Regions from separate parts of the Homo sapiens genome. Here regions 1 and 3 are each reported to be linked to region 2. Evidence: microRNA targets listed by miRTarBase, many of them from high-throughput screens and not tested one by one. Region 2 holds a microRNA gene; each other region holds the end of a gene's coding sequence.

Region 1 (3,186 bases), not on the chromosome of region 2:
TACTTCCTCTGATAGCTGCTCTTGCCTCTGGGAGTTTTTGGTTCTTTAGTACTCCTGAGGTAGAAACCACTGCTGTTCAAGAGTTCCAGAACCAGATGAATCAACTTAAGAATAAGTACCAAGGTCAAGATGAGAAGCTGTGGAAAAGGAGCCAAACATTCCTGGAAAAACATCTTAATAGCTCCCATCCTCGGTCTCAGCCTGCTATCTTACTGCTCACTGCTGCCCGAGATGCTGAAGAAGCACTTAGGTGTCTGAGTGAACAAATTGCTGATGCCTATTCTTCTTTTCGTAGTGTCCGTGCCATCCGGATTGATGGGACAGATAAAGCTACTCAAGACAGTGATACTGTCAAACTAGAGGTAGACCAAGAACTGAGCAATGGATTTAAGAATGGCCAGAATGCAGCTGTGGTACACCGCTTTGAGTCATTTCCCGCAGGCTCTACTTTGATCTTCTACAAATATTGTGACCATGAAAACGCGGCCTTCAAAGATGTAGCCTTAGTCCTGACTGTCTTATTGGAGGAAGAGACACTTGGAACAAGTCTAGGCCTAAAGGAAGTTGAAGAAAAAGTAAGAGATTTTCTTAAAGTCAAGTTCACCAATTCTAACACACCCAACTCCTACAATCATATGGACCCAGACAAACTGAATGGCCTCTGGAGCCGTATTTCTCACTTAGTTCTGCCTGTGCAACCTGAAAATGCCCTGAAAAGGGGCATCTGCTTATAAGAAGTGAGAGAGAAGAAAAATCATGTCCCAAGTTCTGAGAATTGTTCACACTTTCTAACCAGAGACAGAATTCAGAGCTCTTTTTGAAAGAACTAGTTTCTTTTTAAAGAAGTTAAGTGCTTACATAAACATGGAACATATAAATCATTCATTCAACCTAATTATCTGTGATATGAGAGAATCATTTCAGTTTCCATTGAGAGCTCTGTTAAAGGTATCTTAGGAGTGCAGATTATATGCAGTTCCTTAGAGAATCTGTTTTGATTCTGGGCTGAGTTATTACAGTTATGGTATGACCAGTGAGAGGGATTTGTGTCCTTTCTTATGAACCTTCCTGATTTTTTAACTTAGATTTCTCACTAAGTTTCCTGAGTTATTAGTAAGATTGCTCCCTAAATGTAACCAGGGATTTTCCCATTATGTTCCCTTTTATACCATTTAGGTGTGAGTTCCTTAGCTTCTGCCTATAGGAACATAAGTAATGAAAGGTCATCTAGGTGTGTGTTTGGAATTTTTTTCTTTTGTTTTTTGGAAAATGGAAAGAACAAGGCAAGGAAGGAAAATTAATGGGGAAGCTGAAGGGAGGAAATGTTACAGTAATCCACTGAGATGTAGTTTAGTCAAACATAGGTATATGAACTGTTAATCTTGGTGGATTCCGTTGGGATTTGTTTTTTACATCTCCTTTTTCCTTCCTTGAAGAAAAATTCTTGGCTGTCCCAAGGATTCTTCATGTATATTGCAAAATTTAATATATTTGTTCACTTGAGTCTTAAGAGTAGGTCAGGCCAAGGCAGGTGGATCACCTGAGGTCAGAAGTTCAAGACCAGCCTGGCCAACATGGTGAAACCCCGTCTCTACTAAAAATACAAAAATTAGCTGGGCGTGGTGGTGCATGCCTGAAATCCCAGCTACTTGGGAGGCTGAGGCAGGAGAATTGCTTGAACCCGGGAGGCGGAGGTTGCAGTAAGCCGAGACCATGCTTATTGCCCTCCAGTCTGGGCAACAAAAATGAAACTCCGTCTCAAAAAAAAAAAAGTAGGTCAATTCGTAACAGTTTATTTTGGACACACCCTGAAGCTTTTGTTTTGAATTAAGAAATGAGTTTCAGGAATTGACAAACCATTTGTTAACCAGCTGTCCTGGGCTATTGAAGAAGATTTCATTTTCCGCGCATCCACTTGTTGCAGTCCAAGTCCTCTAGTGCAACGCCATAGCAAATATAAAGATTTACTATGCACGTGATACATTTTATGGAGTGCCTCAAGCCAAGATAGTGAATTTATATGAAGGGTGTGAAATGTATTTCTTTACTACTATAGTAGTTTAGTTATAACTTTGCATCTATAATTGAGCTTTCTCATCTGTCAAATGCTATGGTTTTCTTAAAATGTTACAATTCTAGATCTATCCACCTTGTTTTTTTATTGTCTACAAACCATTAAATGTAAATATTGTTTTTAGAGTCAGTCATTGGCTTTGTCATTTACCCTTTGAGAGTTCCACAAGTGGTAGTAGAGTGGTTTAACGTCTTTCCTCTAGTACTACCAGTATTCATAAATGTATACCCCTTACTGTAATTTGTTCCTCTTAGAAGTCAGATCATCTGATTTATAGAGGATTATGAAAACCAGAGTTTTTGAAAAGGCTTATTTTATACATACGTATTATATAGAGAAACAAATGTTTTTATTAAATGTTTCATTGACCCAAGTAATTTAAAAGTAATATGTTACCTATGTCTTTCAGGAAAAATAATTATAGCAGCTGATCTGTAAATGACTTTAAAAGCTATTTTAGTAATTTAAATAAATTTACTTTCTTGGTTTATACTCTCTATGTGTTATAAACTTAATGATTTATCATCTTTAAAAAAAGAAATCCAAGTATTTTCCTTGAACAATTGTAGCAACTCTGGCTAGGAGAAACAAAAATCAAAGAACTGGAGCCATTTGCAAGTACATTGGTTAGAAGTGGAATAGCCGTAACTTTCCATTTTATCTCGGCACTTAGGGTTTTTAAAAATACAGTTAAGTTAGATATTCCTGACTTAGCAAAAGAATCTCCACAGCAGCTTTTCTTTTTTTTTTTTTTAAGTAGACATGGGATCTCGCTATATTGCCCAGGCTGTTTTTGAACTCTTGGCCTCAAGCAGTCCTCCTGCCTAAGCCTCCTAAGTAGCTGGGATTACAGGCATAAGTCACTACACCTGGCTTCTTAACCTTTTCTTTATCACCTCCCTGAAGAACTTTTTTAGATTTTTTTCTTAGTCACCCCTTCCCCATGATATTTCAACACCAGATATATACTATGTATCTGTTTATGGACTGTAAATGTTTTTTGCTTTATACAAAATAGAATTTTTTTTTGTCCCCAATGAACCAATTTTCACCCCCATTGAGAATGCATGCTCAAGAGCATCCACGTTTTAGATAATTGCTGCCTAAAATGT
Region 2 (3,186 bases):
GAGCAGTGGCTCACACCTGTAATCCTAGCACTTTGGGAGGCCGAGGTGGGCAGATCACTTGAGGTCAAAAGTTTGACACCAATCTGGCCAACAGAGTGAAACTCTGTCTCTAAATGGGGGCGGAAATCAACAGACCAACCAGCAAACCAGCAAATGTTTTTTTCTAAAGATCGGATAGGCTTTGTGGGTCACTATCTCTGTCCTATATTCTTCTTTGTTTCTTCAACTCTTCAAAACATAAAACACATTCTTAGCTCCCAGGCCATACAAAAACAGGCTAGGGCAGTCTGGATTTGCCTAAGGGCCATAGCTTGCTGAACACCGCTTCCAGCAGGAACCCTGGGAAGGAACCTGTCCCCAACACAGCTTCTAAGTCACTGCAGATAGCACCTGGGACAGATCAGTCTGAAGGATGGGAGACAAAGGGGACACACACAACAGGTGAACAGTAGGCAAGAAAGGACAAGAGTTGGGGTGGCGACGGTAGGAACATGGGGTGAAAAAGTTTTCTAAAAGACCACAGGAGGTGCCGTTCCTCCTCCCATAGAAGGCTAGCTGTGTAATGCTGAGAAATCACACGGAAAGAGAGACTAGCAATGATGTGTGGGCTTGCTTGACTAAACACAGCCATCCCCCAGCCCTCCAGGACTAAAATGCAAAGCCACAAAACGTGGCCACCACGGCATGAGGATGACCACAGCATGAGGATGCCAGCCAGGCAGTAAGCAGTAACCCAAGCAGCTCCCAATTTTGCCTTTTCAGACACACCCCTGTGGCTACGGGGCATTCTCCAAACCTCAACGCAAACAGTTCCAGGATTCAGGCTGGGCTATTCTACCGAAACAAAATTCTCCACCTACCTCTGACGTTCTTCTCAGGCTGACCACACGCACCATTTCTATCCAACCTCCTCCATGTTAGCCCAATCCCCCAACACCCTGGCCACTTCATTAGTGAGGGAAAACATGTCAGATCATCCCAGTGCCCAGGAGAAGCAAGGCCTAGAAATGATTCAGAACCTGGGGCTGGAGATGATCTTTATTCTGTTCTACTTCTCTTATCACAAGCCCCAAACCTTGACAACGGAAGGAACACCCTGAGACTCGGCTACAATCATGGGAATCAAAAATCAGTTTTAAAATTATCCTTGCATGTGGCTGCCACCCATGGTCCTCCCCATTTATTTTCTACTTCTGAGTGTGAAACGTCACTGTGACAGTTTCCAACCCTCTGCACTCCCCCCACTCCATGACAAATATTCAGGATTCACACTTCACTTTCACACTGCTTTCCAATCCCTTGACTTAGAAGCCGAGCAGAGGCAGCCTGCCTTAATGGAGAAAACATTAGTGCATTCGGGCTTCACTCTGGATCCCAGTCAATTTCTGGATATTTCACAGCTGTTATACATCCACCTCCTTTCTTACAAAAGCCAGCAAAAATTAGTGAGCACCTCGTTGGCTCTGAAATATGAAAATGGAGCCACAGTCAAGCCTGAAAATCGGTTTCTGGTTGACTCCCTTCAAAGTATTTGTTCTAAAACACAGTGTCTGCAGTTCATTTATCATCTGCCAATTTTTAAATGAGTTTAAATTAAAAAAGCTTCAATGCTGCATGCTTTTTTTCTTTTTTTTTTTTTAAAGCAACTCTCAGAATAAAACTGTCATTTGGTCATCACACTAGTAACTGAGAGAACTCTTGCTTGGGCAGATATCAGCACAATTCAAGCTGAGTCTTTTATGTTATTATTACCTGCTCATCTCTCATATAATTAAAAAATAATAAACCCTTGGAAGACCTGTAAGTTGTGTTCAGAGAGAAAATGTGATTCTCTTCACCACTCAGGTCTCCCGTCCTACCTGCTTTATGAGCTGGTCAGGTGAGCGTGCTCTGCTGTGCTTCAGCAGCCTCTGGAATGGGACAGACTCCAAAGTTGGTTGTGCTTCACTTCCCTTCTCCATTCAGGTCTTTAAAGTCCTGGGTTATTAACTATCAACAAAAATACAAGCTGCGCCATGCGTGCTCCAACTTCCTGCCAGCTCCCCATGCTCTGTGGAGCTGAGGAGCAGATTCTCTCTCTCTCCTCCCGGCTTCACCTCCTGAGCTCCAGAGCCCCACCCACCCACAGCACTCAGATCATTTTTCATTTATGAATGCATCCAGCCACGCTGTGTTTGTAAGAGAAGGAGCCAATCCTTGCCCTGCCAGTGTATTGGAACCAGGCTGCTATAAACGGTTCTAATTTTCCAGGAGTATGGGGGGAAATCATATCCCAGCAGACATCATGCATGGCTTCCTCCTGCAGGTATCTGCAGATCAGCTCTTCCATCACCAAAGGACGCACACTTGGCCACGGACCACAGCTGCTTCATTCTACAGACTGCCAGGGAGGAGGACTGAAGATTTCAGGCAGGAGAAAACCAAAATACTATCAAAATGTGTACTTCACATAACTAAAAATGTGAAGCTAGGATGATCAGTGAAGAAACTTTCCACTCAGTGACCTGATATTTCACAATACATTTAATCTGTCTTGCACTTATTAAAGGGCCAGATTTTTTTTTAAATTGCATCCAAATGCAAACAAAAATCAAGGGGTTAAATTATTTTATAAAGAAGTCTGTTGGGAAATAAAAGCCATTTGTCTTGATGACACCAAATTTACAACTTTTCTACTCCGACTAAGCTTCCAACTTCCATTGTAGACAAGTACTAGCAAAACCAGAAATTATCAGTCAGCCCTTGAGTTGCTGAAAAAATCCTCAACTTTTAAACACAATATGATTTTTCTAAGGTTTTATCAGGAAATAGAATGTTAAAAAATAGGCTTCCCTAAACCAACACACATATATAGTAGTTTCTATTATGGGTAAAATTTGCCTTGTTTTACAGCTGAAGCCAAAGGGGTCTTTCATGATCCAACAGCCAGAGACAAAGATTCCAAAAACCTTTGGTGCAGGTATAAAAATGTACATGTGCAACTTAAATGGGAATGACATTTTATTATTCCAATACTCACAAGGTCCTTTGTTAGCTATACTTGTAAGGAACAAAATAGGAGCAAACATCCTCTGTTTACTTCTTGCAGCCATTCTATTTTCTTTCTTTTTTTTTTTTTGAGACAGGGTCTGGCTCTGTTGCCCAGGTGGGAGTGCAGTGGAGTAATCTCGGCCCACTGCAACCTCC
Region 3 (3,186 bases), not on the chromosome of region 2:
AACATTTATATGGAACCTCTTTAAGTGCTGGAAAACAAAGAATTCAACTACTAATGTAATAATTTTTAAAAATACATTCCCAAATAAGCAATAACTAATGTATTTATTATCTATTTTGAGTTTTTAATAAGGTAAAAATAAGTATGAAAGATTCCATATTTACTGTAATAAAAGCAATACACACATTTGTAGGCTTTTAGAAAATTTATTATGAATTCCGAGAAGTCTGCTCATCATATACCTCCCCCAGCCCCAAATAAAACAAACAACATGTTTGTACATAAAGCCTGGATTTACTTGGTACAAAATTTGAGTCTTTGAAAAAAATAGTTAATGGAAAATCTCAATAAAAATTCATTTTGAAAGTAACCAGTACTGTTCAGAAATAAGGAAGTCATGTTACTTGAGAAGTCAAACAGTTTTATTACAGAACTATGTGTATATATTTTGGGTTTAAAACTTGCCAATAGCTGTTTGAAAGGATAGCTCATAATTTATTCAAATAGATATTTTATTAATCAAATGTTTTTGGTTTATCAACATAACCAAATGTATAAAAAATGTTTTTAAATACAAGACATAACTATAAAGTCATGAGGCTGATTGACCTTTTAAACTAACATAATAAAATCTATATGGTCAAAATGAGTGGTGATGCTTTAAGGTAATGATTATGCGTCCCATCTAAGGATGCTGCAATGGCCTAGGGCAGTTTTGAAATGTCTCTTTGCAACTACCTTCAAAAGGATATGAGCTTCATAATTTAATCATTCATTTGATTTGGTCCCCAATATTATTCCAGTTCAATCATCATTTATATTCACCAGTCCTGGCGATTTTGAAAAATCTTATTAATCTTATTTGTCACTTATTAGCGTATTCAAAGGAATGTCAATTGAGGTTCTGATGGTAATTCTGAAATTTAAGCATTTACACACTTTTAAGATGTGTAAATTTTAGTAACTACTCACATTATAGACTTGTTTTTGGTATATGTCTATCATTTTGAAATAATGAGATTTTTCTTTTTTCTTTTTTTCTTTTTTTCTTTTTTTTTTTGAGACAGACTCTTGCTCTGTTGCCAGGCGGGAGTGCAGTGGCATGATTTTGGCTCACTGCAACCTCTGCCTCCCAGGTTCAAGCAATTCTCCTGCCTCAGCCTCCCAGGTAGCTGGGACTACAGGTGCATGCCACCATGCCCAACTAATTTTTTTGTATTTTTAGTAGAGACGGGGTATCACCATGTTGGCCAGGATGGTCTTGATCTCCTGACCTCATGATCCACCCGCCTTGGCCTCCCAAAGTGCTGGGATTACAGGGGTGAGCCACCATGCCCGGCCCAGAAATAATGAGATTTTTCAAAGCAACAGTGATTCATCACACTGAAATAGGACTCTACAGTTCAAAATGACAAGAATAACTTTATCCTGTGTTACATACCAATATTAGAGAAATCTTAAAAGTTTGTAGCTGTTAGTTTTTAGTTTATGCATGTAGTTCAGTAGCCCAAGTTGACAACTCCCCTGTCTCTCTACATGAATCACTGTAGTTGAAATTGTACTAAAGTATCAGAAGTAACATTTACTGTAAAATGTTAAATAGCACCAATATTACTTGAAAGTAAAGTGAGACATTAATAGGAATGCTGACACAGATTTAATTTCTAACTACTAGAGAGAAAGCATCTCCTAGACAAAATACTATTTAGATATGAATTATTTTAAGATCACAGCCAGAAAAATGTCATAAAACATTTTAGATTTTGCTTGGAAAAGTTAGAAAAGAAAGCTTTGTGTATCGCTCTTTTATCTTTTATTTCCAAAGAAGATGTACAAATGCTTACATAATCAGAACAGTGCAATCTTACCAATGAAGTTTACCTTGTGGGAGCTACATTTACTTATTTCATATATTAGTTCAACAACATAAATATAATAAAAATGCTTTTAAGCAATCTGATTAGAGCAACATTTATATTAACTACAAAATATACAGTAAAATGAAACATCTTGTTAAATAGGCCTGTAGGAAAACAATATTTTAAAGGAATACATTTTCATGAATCTACTTTCATATTTATTTGTTTTATTGTATCTTATAGTTACTATAATCGTTGTGTGCTTTTGTTACTGCAATTTCCAGGATCATTGTATATTCTCAGTATGCCAGTGACTATATATGTAAAGGTAATTTAAAAAGTATTACTCCCAGAGTAAAAACAGACAAACAAATAAGAAATCTCATTTTTAATGGGAAGTTGTGCATAAAACTATTGTAGTATTTTTATAGAAATGTCCCTTAATCATTATAAGTTCATCATTATAAAATGTATACTATTGTACTAAAGCAAAACTGTCTGCCTTTAAATCTAAGTGGTGTCAACTTACTGTATAATTCTGGTTACAAAGTTAGATATGAAATCTTTGGCTATTAATTAGAAAAGCATTATTTGAAAAGACCTGTCAATAAACATTTCTAAATGTGGTTGCTCATCTTAATAGTTTTCTTAATTAGAACAGCTAGGAAATGAACAGAACAGTGGTGCTTTTATGTTATAATAACAAAGAAGTATTACAGTATCCCAATCTCCAGACCTGGGGTCCAAGTATTCAATCCTGGCTCAGTTGCAGGCTGACAGAAGAGAAGCATCGTCCTACGCTCGTACACAATGGAGCAATGATAACATCTGTCACACTCTTCCATATTGTCTGCACTGAAGGCAGAACCATTAGGCAGGTCTTTACAAAAGGCATTAAAATCCTGGAAGGAAGGAAGAGAGATGTGTGAGGATTGTTGCTGTTACCAAATAAGGTCTGTCTTGTACATGTATGAAAAGATAAAATACTGACCCATTTACTTAAATTTGGTTGAGAGTTTGAAACAAATAAATGAACAATGATCACTGATAATGATTTGGGTTTTTTGTCCCCCTGACTCTCATTTTGAAATGTAGTCCCCAGTGTTGGAGGTGGGGCCGAGTGGGGATAATTGGATCACAGCGGGTAGATCCCTCATGAATGTCTTAGTGCCTGCCACCCTCTTGGTAACGTGAGTTCTCACTCAGTTAGTTTGCTTGAGATCTGATTAACTAAAAGAGTCTGGGACCTCCACATTCTCTCTCTTGCTCCCTTTCTTGCCATGTGACGTGCCTGCTCCTCCTTCTCCTTCCACTATAAGTGGAAGCTT

The links. The annotated mature microRNA hsa-miR-4279 reads CUCUCCUCCCGGCUUC and lies in region 2 at 2,079-2,094, shown strand. An mRNA with a match to its seed (bases 2 to 7 or 8) in the 3' UTR can be bound and repressed. Matches are read on the target gene's strand: a 7mer-m8 pairs with bases 2 to 8, a 7mer-A1 pairs with bases 2 to 7 and ends in A, and an 8mer does both.
Region 1: the mRNA of TOR1AIP1 is a reported target of hsa-miR-4279. Seed matches in the 3' UTR shown: 7mer-A1 at 1,665-1,671.
Region 3: the mRNA of CAV2 is a reported target of hsa-miR-4279. Seed matches in the 3' UTR shown: 7mer-A1 at 1,146-1,152.

Annotation. Positions count from the first base shown.
Region 1 is chr1:179,917,506-179,920,691 of GRCh38, forward strand. TOR1AIP1 (torsin 1A interacting protein 1) reads left to right here. Exons shown (of 10, transcript NM_015602.4): 10 at 1-2,571. The coding sequence ends at 734. Among named protein-coding and RNA genes, the nearest start is that of CEP350, 36 kb to the right of the region's middle.
Region 2 is chr5:31,935,020-31,938,205 of GRCh38, reverse strand. MIR4279 (microRNA 4279) reads left to right here and starts at 2,047; the gene lies at 2,047-2,104. All of the region lies in intron 2 of PDZD2 (PDZ domain containing 2), which reads right to left.
Region 3 is chr7:116,505,545-116,508,730 of GRCh38, reverse strand. CAV2 (caveolin 2) reads right to left here. Exons shown (of 3, transcript NM_001233.5): 3 at 190-2,760. The coding sequence ends at 2,610. Among named protein-coding and RNA genes, the nearest start is that of CAV2, 7.4 kb to the right of the region's middle.